Regions from separate parts of the Homo sapiens genome. Here region 2 is linked to region 1. The links come from fine-mapping of genetic effects on gene expression. A gene starts in region 1. The other region holds a variant in brackets. All regions are shown on one strand. Distances are from middle to middle.

Region 1 (5,372 bases):
TCTAAATTCCACTTTTGATTTACCACCTAACAACTGCAATGTCTGAAACACAGACTCACATTTAACTCTTAGATCATTCATTCTACACTGACTGCTAAAAAGCCACGTGCTGCTTTTTTTTTTTTTTTTTTAAGCCACTGCTTTACTTCTTCAGGTTAGCAAAATGCTTAGGTAAATTTGTTGGCCATCACAAATGTGATTGAGGCCACCGGTTTCTATCATCAAATGAAATCACAATGACAGGTTTCTGACAATAAACTCAACCTAAGGGGAGCGCTAATAAATTCCCTTCCCAGCCTCTTCTTGGGTGTGTGGTATGTGTGCTGCCTCCTGAAATGCCCAGGATGGCCACCCTCCCACACGGGATATTCTAAGCCGCTGACACCATCTAACTTTTCTGAAAGAAATTAACAACTCAGCCGATCTTTACCAGGCTAAAATCACAGAACTGGGTCCCCTGAAAGCCAGGCTTTCATGCCACATCCACAGCCACTGCTGTCTAGCCAAGTCTATAACATCTTCTTGCCCTTATTAATACATATGTTACATAGGTTTACGTATGTTAATCCCTAATGACTTGACTTAACCTTGTCACAGCCAGGCGCGGTGGTTCATGCCCTACAATCCCAGCACTTTGGGAGGCCAAAATGGGTAGATCACCTGAGGTCAGGAGTTCAAGACCAGCCTGGCCAACATGGTGAAAACCCCATCTCTACTAAAAAAAAAAAAACTAACCACGTGTGGTGGCGGGCACCTGTAATCCCAGCTACTCAGGAGGCTGAGGCAGGAGAATTGCTTGAACCCGGGAGACGGAGGCTTCAGTGAGCTGAGATTGTGCCACTGCACTCCAGCCTGGGCTATGGAGCAAGACTCCGTCTCAAGCTGAGGGGAACTTTCAGTGCCCATCAGATGGGAGACCAATATGGGCCAATGAAATGGTGTTTCTATGAAATGGCAGCTTCGTCCTTCTTGCTAGTTGACTGGATATGGGAAGGCTGGGGAAGAAGAGCAACTCCCAGGTTTCTGGCTTAGGCAACCAGGTCAATGCTGGCACATTTGCCAAGATGGTGACTACTGGTTCCAGGAGGAGAAGGAGTTCAGGTTGGACATGCTGAGTTTATGGTGCCCAAGAAACAGCCACTTCTTTGAGCCACAGCATCAAAGAAGCACAGGCTCCACATCTGGAGCTGGAGTGCAGGGGACTCAGTGGCTTTGGGACACAAAGGCAAAAGCTGGCAGCACCAGGACAATAATTAAAGCACTGGAGTGAACATACTGGCTCTGTGGGGAGGGGTGTGTGAGCAGGGGACTGCTGATGGCAGGTCAGACCCATTTCTTCTTAGGCCTTTCTACTATAGTGTGTTCCATAATTTAATCTTTGGTAAGTAAAATTTGGGAGGGAGGGGGAAGATAAAAAAACACTAACTTTGTGCTCACTCTGCCATGTAGGTACAAACAGAAGCAAAAAGGGCCTATTAAAAAAAAAAACAGCAAGATACATTTAATCATTTAATAAGCACTTACTGTGTGCCGGGCCTTGTGCAAAGCACTAAACATGAATTATCTCCTGGAACCATCCAAACAATCCTGGCACAAAAGTCCTATGACTACCATTCCACAGATGGGACACTGAGGATGGGAGCAAATGTGTGGGGGAGCTCAGGGCTGTCATGTCACAGCCCACAGTCAGGCAGTCTCTGGGCCAGATGGAGAATATTGAAGAACAATTATAATACATAAGAGCTGCTACTTAGTGAGAGATGGCGCTGGACTAGAAATACAATCTCAGCAAATCCTTACAACCCTTTGAGAGTGATCTTGTTATTATCCCATTTTGTAAATGAGGAACCTGAGGTAGTAGGAAGGGAAGTCAACTGGACCAGTTCTGAATCTGGCCCTCGGGGGTGACCAATACTACGGCCAGAGCCCCACCCTCAGAGGGTCTCTGGGCCACTAGGAAAACGCTGAATAAATGGTACCATTTACTGAGCGTTATATGCCAGCTGCTGTGCTAAGCACTTTACACATGGTATTCTCACTGCATCCTGAAAACAACTCGACGAAGTGGTTGCTATTTAAATCCCCATTTTATAGATAGGGAAACCAAGGCACAGAGAGGTGAAGCCAGTTGCCCAAAGTCACACAGCTGGTAAATGTTCAAATTTGAACCTGGGGTCTCTCTGCCTTCCAAACCAACGCTCTTAACAAAATAATCTCGGTTAACAGCAGCTAGCCTGCATTGGGTGCTAACTAAGGACTCACCTCTTTACATGCACACGCTCAACTAATCCTCACCCTATGCAATCGATAACATCTTCACCTCATTTTTCGGAGAGCTAACAATAACCCAAATACGTAGTAAGTGCCTCCTATGTGCCAAATGTTTTATTATATTATCTCAACAGAGTCTCCGCCAAGATGCTCTCCTACTCCGTTTTACTGCAGGGGAAATTGAGGTTCGGCGCGGTTTTCCCAGATCGCGGCTCCCGAGTGGCACAGCCGGGACGCGAATCCACCGCTCCCCGCCTCCAAGCTCTTCACCACAGCGCCGGGGTGCACGCCTGGAAAGTTGAGCCATGCGGGCACGAGTCCGGCTGGGTCCGGAGGGCGCGAGTCCCGGCGCCGCCGCCCCCCACGGCCAGTACCCACACCCGGCCGTCCGCCCGCGCTGACCCTCGGGGTCCGGGCAGCCACCGATTCCCCGCCACCCTTGCGCGAGGCCGATCCTGCACCCGGAGCCACGTACCTGGACGCCCCGGCTGCCCGCCTCGCGGGCCCCACGATCGCGGCGTCCAGCTCCGCGCCGCTCGCTGGAGACGCCGCCAGCTCCGGTGGCCCGAGTGACTTCCAGGCTGCCCACTTCCAAGCCGCTTCGCGCGAGTCCTCCTGGGAACTGTAGTTTCGCCCTAGCCGGCCGCGAACTCAAAAAGAGAATGGCGCGCGGGGGCTGCCGGGAGCCGTAGGCGCACCGCCGCGCTGCCTCCTAGGAACGGTAGTCCGCTGGTCGCCTTCGTGCAGCTCCAGTCTGTAGAGCACTTCCGCAGCCCCGAGGGGCGTGAGGGAGGGAGGTGTGTCTCCTGCAGACTACAGCTCGAGAGCCGCGCTCTTCGCCCCGCCGGGGCGGTTTCTCCTTTCTCCTGGCCCCGTCTACCTCCTCCCTTCATTCGGCGGAACCTCTCCCTCACTCTCTGCCAGGCTCGAGTCACTTACCCCTAGGACGCTAGCCCGGGGGAAACGGGGGAAGCGGAGCAGTGCGCTAGACCCCCAGCGGAGGGGGCGGTGGAGGAGGGCGTAGATGCACGCCCGCGCACGCGCGGTCGTCGGCAGACCCCGGCCTAAATTGCCGCGGGACCCCGCGGAGAGGATTTTTTTTTTTTTTCTTTCGAGAGCGCGCGCGCGTTCTCGCGCCGGGCGCGCGCCCATGCGCACGCGCGTTCAGACCCCTGGCCTCGGGAAGTCCGCCGGCTGCGGGGTTGGGGGCCAACCGTTCTGTGGGCGGAGTCCTCTCGCAACATCCGCCAGGTAGCTTCTTAGTTGCTGCCCCTAGCTCTAGGAGCTCCTGAGTGCACACGCCGTACCCGTCCCTTGTCGGGAATCCTGTCGCAGGTAACAGGCGCAGCCAATGCTTTGAGATAGAGACGCCCTGCCTTCCCTGCCACGTGCAGGAGGCCCGAGGGTGAGGGGCCCCAGGTGTAGTCGCCTGTCCCCGGCGTAGGCGGCTCCAGAGCTCTGCCTTCGACGGGAGCCACAAGACCCAGGGGCTGCCTAGGGGCCTTGTTATCTTGCATTCTTTTGTTGATCGCACATTCCTGAGGGTAACTAGTGTTTGTAGAGTACCTACACCTTGGGAAATTTTGTCCAAATTTAATCCACCTGGTGACATAACCAAGCAGCGGAATACCCCGCAACACACACTCCTTTTTTAAGGTATATTGCCACTCCTCCATAAGAGTTACCGAGGGAATTGACTGGAATTGCAAGGTCCTCTGGTGGAGAAGCCGGAGTCAATACCCTTTCCGCCTCAGCCTGCCTTCTAGGAAGATGTTCACTAACACTTGAAGCTGGGAAGCATATGTTTCTTCCTGGGAGAGCACATTTTTCCACTCATTCAACAAAAATGGATTAACCACCTATTCCATGTCAGGTTGGGTGATTATGGAGACACAAGAGAAATCCAGACAGACTGGACTCCTACCTTCAGGGAGTTTTCAGTCCAGTAGGGATATCAGGCCACCACCAGACTACAACAATGTAGAGCAATACTAGCTAAGAGAAATATACCCTGCACTTTGAGCCACCGAGGCAGGAGGATCACTTAAGGCCAGGAGTTGGAGACTGGCCGGGTAACATAGCAAGACCCTATCTCTACTAAAACTAAAAAACTAGCTAGGCGTGGTGGCATGTGGCCATAGTCCCAGCTATTTAAGAGGCTGAGTATCGCTTAAGCCCAGGAGTTTGAGACTGCAGTGAACCATGATTGCACCACTGCCCTCCAGCTTGGGCGACAAAGCAGAACCCTGTCTCTTTAAAAAAAAAAAAAATTATATATGTGTGTGTTTTTATGTGTAATGCAAGCCACATATGCAATTTTAATTTTGACATAAACAGGTAAAATTCATTTTATTTATCATTATTATTTACTTTTTTTTTTCTTGCTATGTTGCCCAGGCTGGTATTGAACTCCTGGCCTCAAGACATGTTCCTACCTCAGCCTCGCAAAGTGCTGGGATTATAGGCGTGAGCCATCTCACCCAGCTATGAAATTAATTTTAATATTTTATTTAACCCAAATATATCCAAAATATTATTCCAAGTTAGGTTAATGGAAAAATGTTTTCATTGCTTCAGTTCTACTTTTTTTTTTTTTTTTTTTGGAGACGGAGTCCCACTCTGTCGCCAGGCTGGAGTGCAGTGGCGCCACCTCGGCTCCCTGCAACCTCTGACTCCCTGGTTCAAGTGACTCTCCTGCCTCAGCCTCCCAAGTAGCTGGGATTACAGGCAGGCGCCATCACACCCAGCTAATTTTTGTATTTTTAGTAGAGACTGGGTTTCACCATGTTAGCCAGGATGGTCTCGATCTCCTGACGTGATCTGCCAGCCTCGGCCTCCCAAAATGCTGGGATTACAGGCGTGAGCCACCATGCCTGGCCTCAGTTCTACAATTTAAGTTAATTAAAATCAAATAAAATTAAAATGTTATGAGGCACTAACAAAGATACTCATTTGCGGCATTAGCTGCAGTAGCAAAAGGTTGGAAACTACCGAATGTCCATTAATAGAAATTTGAATAAATAAATGATAGTTCAGCCACACGGTGGAATACCCTGCAGCTAGTAACTGTTGGGAAATGAGTTATATGTATTAATATGAAT
Region 2 (5,372 bases), 270 kb before region 1:
GGTGGGGGAAACTGAGGCCCAGGGAGATGAAATAACTTGCCCGAAATGATGTAGCTAGTGGGGGATAAGAGCCAGGATGTAGACATAGGTAGTCTGGTTTGAGAGACGATATTTTAACCACCATTCTGTACTCCCAGTGACAACAACTGTTAACGATAAATATCAATACATAATACATGAGAATAAAACACAGCAGCAGCTGATACACTTGAGCCCAGCTATGTCTCCAGTCCTGTGATAAGTGCTTTAAACTCATGGTCTCAGTTCGCCCTCACAACTTTAGATGGAGGATCCTTTTTTTTTTTTTTGAGAAAGAGTCTAGTTCTGTCACCCAGGCTGGAGTCCAGTGGTGCCATCTCAGCTCACTGCAATCAAGTGATTCTCTCGCCTCAGCCTCTCGAGTCTCTGGGACTACTGGCACCCGCCACCACACCTGGCTAATTTTTGTATTTTTAGTAGAGGCGGGGTTTCATCATGTTGGCCAGGCTGGTCTCAAACTCCTGACCTCAGGTGATCCGCCCGCCTCGGCCTCCCAAAGTGCTGGGATGAGAGGCGAGCCACCGTGTCTGGTTGACAGATCCTATTACCCCCATTTTACAGATGAGGACATTGAGCCTCAGAGCACCTAAGGGGCCTGAGAGAGATCACGCAGTTGGGGTAAGAGGTGGAGCTGTGATGTAGACATAGGCAGTCAGAGGAAGAGCCCTGAAGTCACACTGCTCACCCACATACCCCGAGGGCCCCCAGCCACTTGGCCTTCACCCTGGACCAATCTTGCTTTCTCTCCCTGACGTGTGTCATGGGCTGGAGAACCAATTCATCCCTGCATGCGGCTGGAATTGTGCTCCAGTGTAGGAGCCGTAAGCAGCCACATTGCCCCTGTGGCCTGTGGGGCAGAAGCGACGGGTCTTCAGGAAGCAGACACAGAGAGGGTCTAGGCAAGAGATTCAACAGAGATACCAATCAAGCCACTGCTCGCTACCTCCACCAACCACTGCCACCTGTATTGTCAGAGCGGCCTCCTCCTGGCTCCCTCTTCCTCCTGCATCCTTCCCCAGCCTCAGCACACAGCCAGAGAGATCCTGGGAACATGTGAATCAGATCAGGACTCTCTCAGGGTTCCACCTCACTCTGGGTAAGACCCAGAGCCCTCCCGACAGGGCCCCCCATCTGCCCCCCTCTCTTCTCTGCCCCCAGCTCCTCCACACTCCCTCTCCTTCACTCTGCTCCAGCCATGCGGAAGCTGTTCCTCAAACACATCAGAAACACTGCTACCTTGGGACCTTTGCACTGCTCCCCGCCCTGCAGATCTCTGCCTGGCTTCCGCACTCCCTTGAGTTCCAGGAGACGGCCTCGCTTCCTCTTCCCAAGCTGTGACTCTCCGAGGAGGTCTCTGTCTCAGGTGACCCCAGCCTCCCAACACTCACAGGCAGGGTGGGCCCCGGTGGATCTTCAGGCCCTCAGATTACCTTTCAGGGCTGTGTCCCCAGAAGGGCATCCCAGGGACTCCTGGCGCAGCCTGGGGAAGCAAGGCCACGTGCTTCCTGCCTGCCTGGGAACGCCCGGCTGCGTCAGCTCCATGTGGAGCCGAGAGCCTATGACTGCTCCTAACAGCTCTGACAAATTGCTCTGGAAGCCCAGAAAGCTCTGGAGTGCGTGCTGCCTCAGGAGAGGGCGAGGGCCAGGTGGCTGCCCGCCCAGGATCACTCAGCCCACTGCGGTGCCCATGGCAGGCACTGGCGCCTGGCAGCATGCCTGGCAGCTGGGCTCCCATGACGAATGTCTGGAGGGAGCATCTGTGAGGTCATCGATGGGCACAAGCTGCTACAGGCTGCACCTGCTTCCACGGCAAGGGCCGCAGCCCGGGGAAGGGAGGGTAGGGGGCTCCCCGCTTGGGCGTGTCAGGACCCATCCCTCTCCTGGCAGCCTTTGAATGCTGACCACCATCCTCCCCCTGCCCAAGATAGTCCGTCCTCTCCAGAGTAGCCCACAGTGATCTTTTCTATTTTTTCATTTTTACATTTTATTATTATCATTTTTTGAGATAAGGTCTTACTTTGTCACCCAGGCTGAGTGCAGTGATGTGATCTCGGCTCACTGCAGCCTCCACTTCCCGGGGTCAAGCAATCCTCCAACCTCAGCCTCCCAAGTAGCTGGGACAACATGCGTGTGCCACCACACCCAGCTAATTTTTTGTAGACATGGGGTTTTGCCATGTTGCTCAGGCTGGTCTTGAACTCCTGGGCTCAAGTGATCCACCTGCCTTAGCCTCCCAAAGTGCTGGGATTACAGGTGTGAGCCACTACGTCCAGCCCACAGTAATCTTTTTAAAAACATTAAGTCAGATGATGTGCTCAAATGCCTCCCATGGCTCCCATGTCCCTTGGAACCAAATCCCAGCATCTGACTTTGGTCAATATGCCCGCTAGAACCAGGCTCCTGCCACCTCACTATGCTGACCTCCTGCCACTCTCCCCCCATCCCACCTGCTTCAGCCCCTCTGGCCACCTGACCATTTCTGGAGCATTGAGAGTAAGTTCACCCTCAGGGTCTAGTCATCTACTGTTTCCACTGCCTGGATCTCACCCTGGCTTCCTACAACGCATCACCTCCTGAGAAGCCTTCCCAGAGACCCGCTGTTTTTGCCTTTCCTCCCCAGCACTTATCACCTCCTGGCACACTCCACGGTGGTTCGGCTGTCTGTCTGTCTTGTCCTGTCTCCAGGAGAATGACAGCTCCATAAGGGAAGGATGCTGCGACACCTGGCACAGAGTAGGGGCTGCAAAGGTCAGTGACTGGAAGAATCAGTCCCCGCTGGCTGCCCCACTCTGCCTCCTCTTCTCACAAGCACCTCAGGTGCTCCCAGGCCACGGCAGCCTCCAGACACGTGGCAGCCACCC[T/A]GGACTCTCACATGGCTTGCTGGCTCTGCCCTGGGCCTGCATCTCCCTCCCAGCTTACTTCCTGGCAATGCCGCCTGCTGCCACATCCACAGTTGCTTTGTCCTCCAGCTCAGGCCCACGTCCTCCCATGCAGATCCAAGCCTCAGCCCCCTCAGAGACTTTGCCTCCTGTCTCGCTGCCAGCACCATATTTTGGAACACAAATCCACCCGCATTACCCTGGCTGCTCTTAAGATGAGATCCAAACTCCATAATGGAGCTGGTAGGGCCCTGAATGTTCTGGCCACTGCTGATTTCCCCAACCTCCCATTGGCTGCCCTACCTGCCTACCTACCTACCTACCTCCAGGGCCTTGCTCTGTCACCCAGGATGGAGTGATTGATTGATCAACAGGGTGTCAATCAGTTACCCAGGATGGAGTGCAGTGGTGCAATCACAGCACACTGCTGTCTCGAACTTCCAGGCTCAAGTGATCCTCTCACCTCAGCCTCTTGAGTAGCTGGGACTGCAGGAGCCTACTGCCATACCCAGCTAATTTAAAAAAATTTTTGGCCAGGCATGGTGGCTCATGCCTGTAATCTCAGCACTTTGGGAGGCCAAGGTGGGTGGGTCACCCGAGGTCAGGAGTTCGAGACCAGCCTGGCCAACATGGTGAAACCCTGTCTCTACTATAAATACAAAAATTAGCCGGGCGTGGTGGCAGGTGCCTGTAATCCCAGCTACTCGGGAGGCTGAGGCAGGAGAATCGCTTGAACCTGGGAGGCAGAGGTTGCAGTGAGCTGAGACTGTGCCATTGCACTGCAGCCTGGGCAACAAGAGCGAAACTCCATCTCAAAAAAAAAAAAAAAAAAAAAAAAGTTTTGGTAGGGGGATAGAGATGGGTCTATGTTGCCCAGGCTGGTCTCAAACTCCTGGCCTCAAGTGATGCTCCTGCCTTGGCCTCCCAAAGTGCTGGGATTACAGGCATGAGCCACTGTGCCCAGCCACAATTTCTATACTTGAGCCCAAGGGCCTGTGTTCAGTGGCCTGACGATACCACCCTCCTCCCTACCACAGGGACTTTGCACACGCAACTCTAATTCATAGACATACTTTCTCCACGCCTCATCTTTCCCTTCTGTTTTTTTGTTAATGGTAAATAGTCATATATACATTCTTCTGAATGAGAAATTCAACAGACTTAAAAAAAAACATATGTGTGTATATATACATAGTTGTATATATACATACTGAGGTTCACAACATATATTGAGGCCCAGAAAGTGTGTGTGTCTATATATATGTTGCATATATACACACAATTTCAAAAACAGAGCAAATACCTGTATAACTGCATCCCAGATGAATGTCTCTCCAGCCCCACTGAACCCCTCTCCTCCTTCACCCGCTCCCTCCTCCCTGTCCCCCTCATCCTTGGCAGATGTGACCCTCGTTCAGGAACATTATCGCTGGCCCTAGGCTAGATTAGACACCTCCTCCAGCTCTGCATCCCATCCACCCTCAGACCCCACCCGTCTCTGCAGGCTGTCCCCTGGCACAATTCATTCATGACTTTTGGCATTATTCACTAGCTGTTTCCCATGGGCCTCCGTCCGTACCAGGACGGTGGGGATCTGGTCTGCCTGTTCCAGCTCCCTGCAGAGGCCCCGGTGCACAGCAGGCGCTCGCTGTGTGAATAAATACCAAGTTCTATGCCACAGAGTGCTGTGGAGGTAGACATAGGGCAGTCAATGAGTGCTCATGCTGGGCCTGTTCAAAGGTGCCTGCCTTCCAGGAGCAGAGGCTGGGGAGCAGGCTGTCACTCCAGCCCAGGGGCACGTTCTGACGACAGCACATGAGGGGGGCTGCTGGGCTGCCCGGTGCACAGTGCAGTGTGGCCGCCATGGGAGGCAGAGGCACGTGTGGCCACTTGAACCAAGGTCTGGCCCCAAGCAGGTGGCTCTGTGACCATCCAGGGAACTTGTGCCTACTGAAATGGGAAGACTGTGGGAGGCCAATGGAGTGAGGTGGGGTGAGATGGACAGTGGGAGTCCGTCTCATTCTCTGTCTGGACTGCTTTTCCCTCCTGACTTCCCTGGCTAGCTCAGACTCTTTCTCCAGGAAAGCCCCTCCCACAACTGGGCTGGCCCCTCTCACAACTGGGTTAGGGGGGCCCCCTTTGGGCTCTCACATCCCTGTACCCCTCCATCATGGCCCCAACCCCTCTGCCTGGCCCCCCTCCAGCCCACCCTGGCCCCTCTACCTGGGCCCCTCATCTTACCCTGGCCCCTCTACCTGGGCCCCTCATCTCACCCTGGCCCCTCTACCTGGGCCCCTCATCTTACCCTGACCCCTCTTCGCAGCTGCCTTGTATCCCAGCCCTGACCCCTTAGCCTGGGCCCCCCACCCTGACCCTGACCCCTCTGCCTGGGCCTCGCCCATCTTGACCTGACCCCTCTGGGCTGTCTCTGTCTGGGAATGCGTCAGTCAGGCA

The links. PIP is the estimated chance that this variant, and not a neighbour inherited with it, causes the effect.
Region 2: its variant is fine-mapped to the expression of SIPA1L3 in aorta (GTEx, PIP above 0.99). The same link has a PIP of 0.9 or more in atrial appendage.

What each region holds. Positions count from the first base shown.
Region 1 is chr19:37,904,733-37,910,104 of GRCh38, reverse strand. SIPA1L3 (signal induced proliferation associated 1 like 3) reads right to left here and starts at 2,897. Exons shown (of 22, transcript NM_015073.3): 1 at 2,747-2,897. WDR87 (WD repeat domain 87) reads left to right here and starts at 3,511. Exons shown (of 6, transcript NM_001291088.2): 1 at 3,511-3,606. RefSeq lists an enhancer at 2,186-2,245 and a silencer at 2,546-2,785.
Region 2 is chr19:38,169,770-38,175,141 of GRCh38, reverse strand. All of the region lies in intron 15 of SIPA1L3 (signal induced proliferation associated 1 like 3), which reads right to left. Among named protein-coding and RNA genes, the nearest start is that of SNORD152, 9.4 kb to the right of the region's middle. RefSeq lists an enhancer at 4,141-4,702. The variant T/A (reference allele first, on the strand shown) is at 2,901.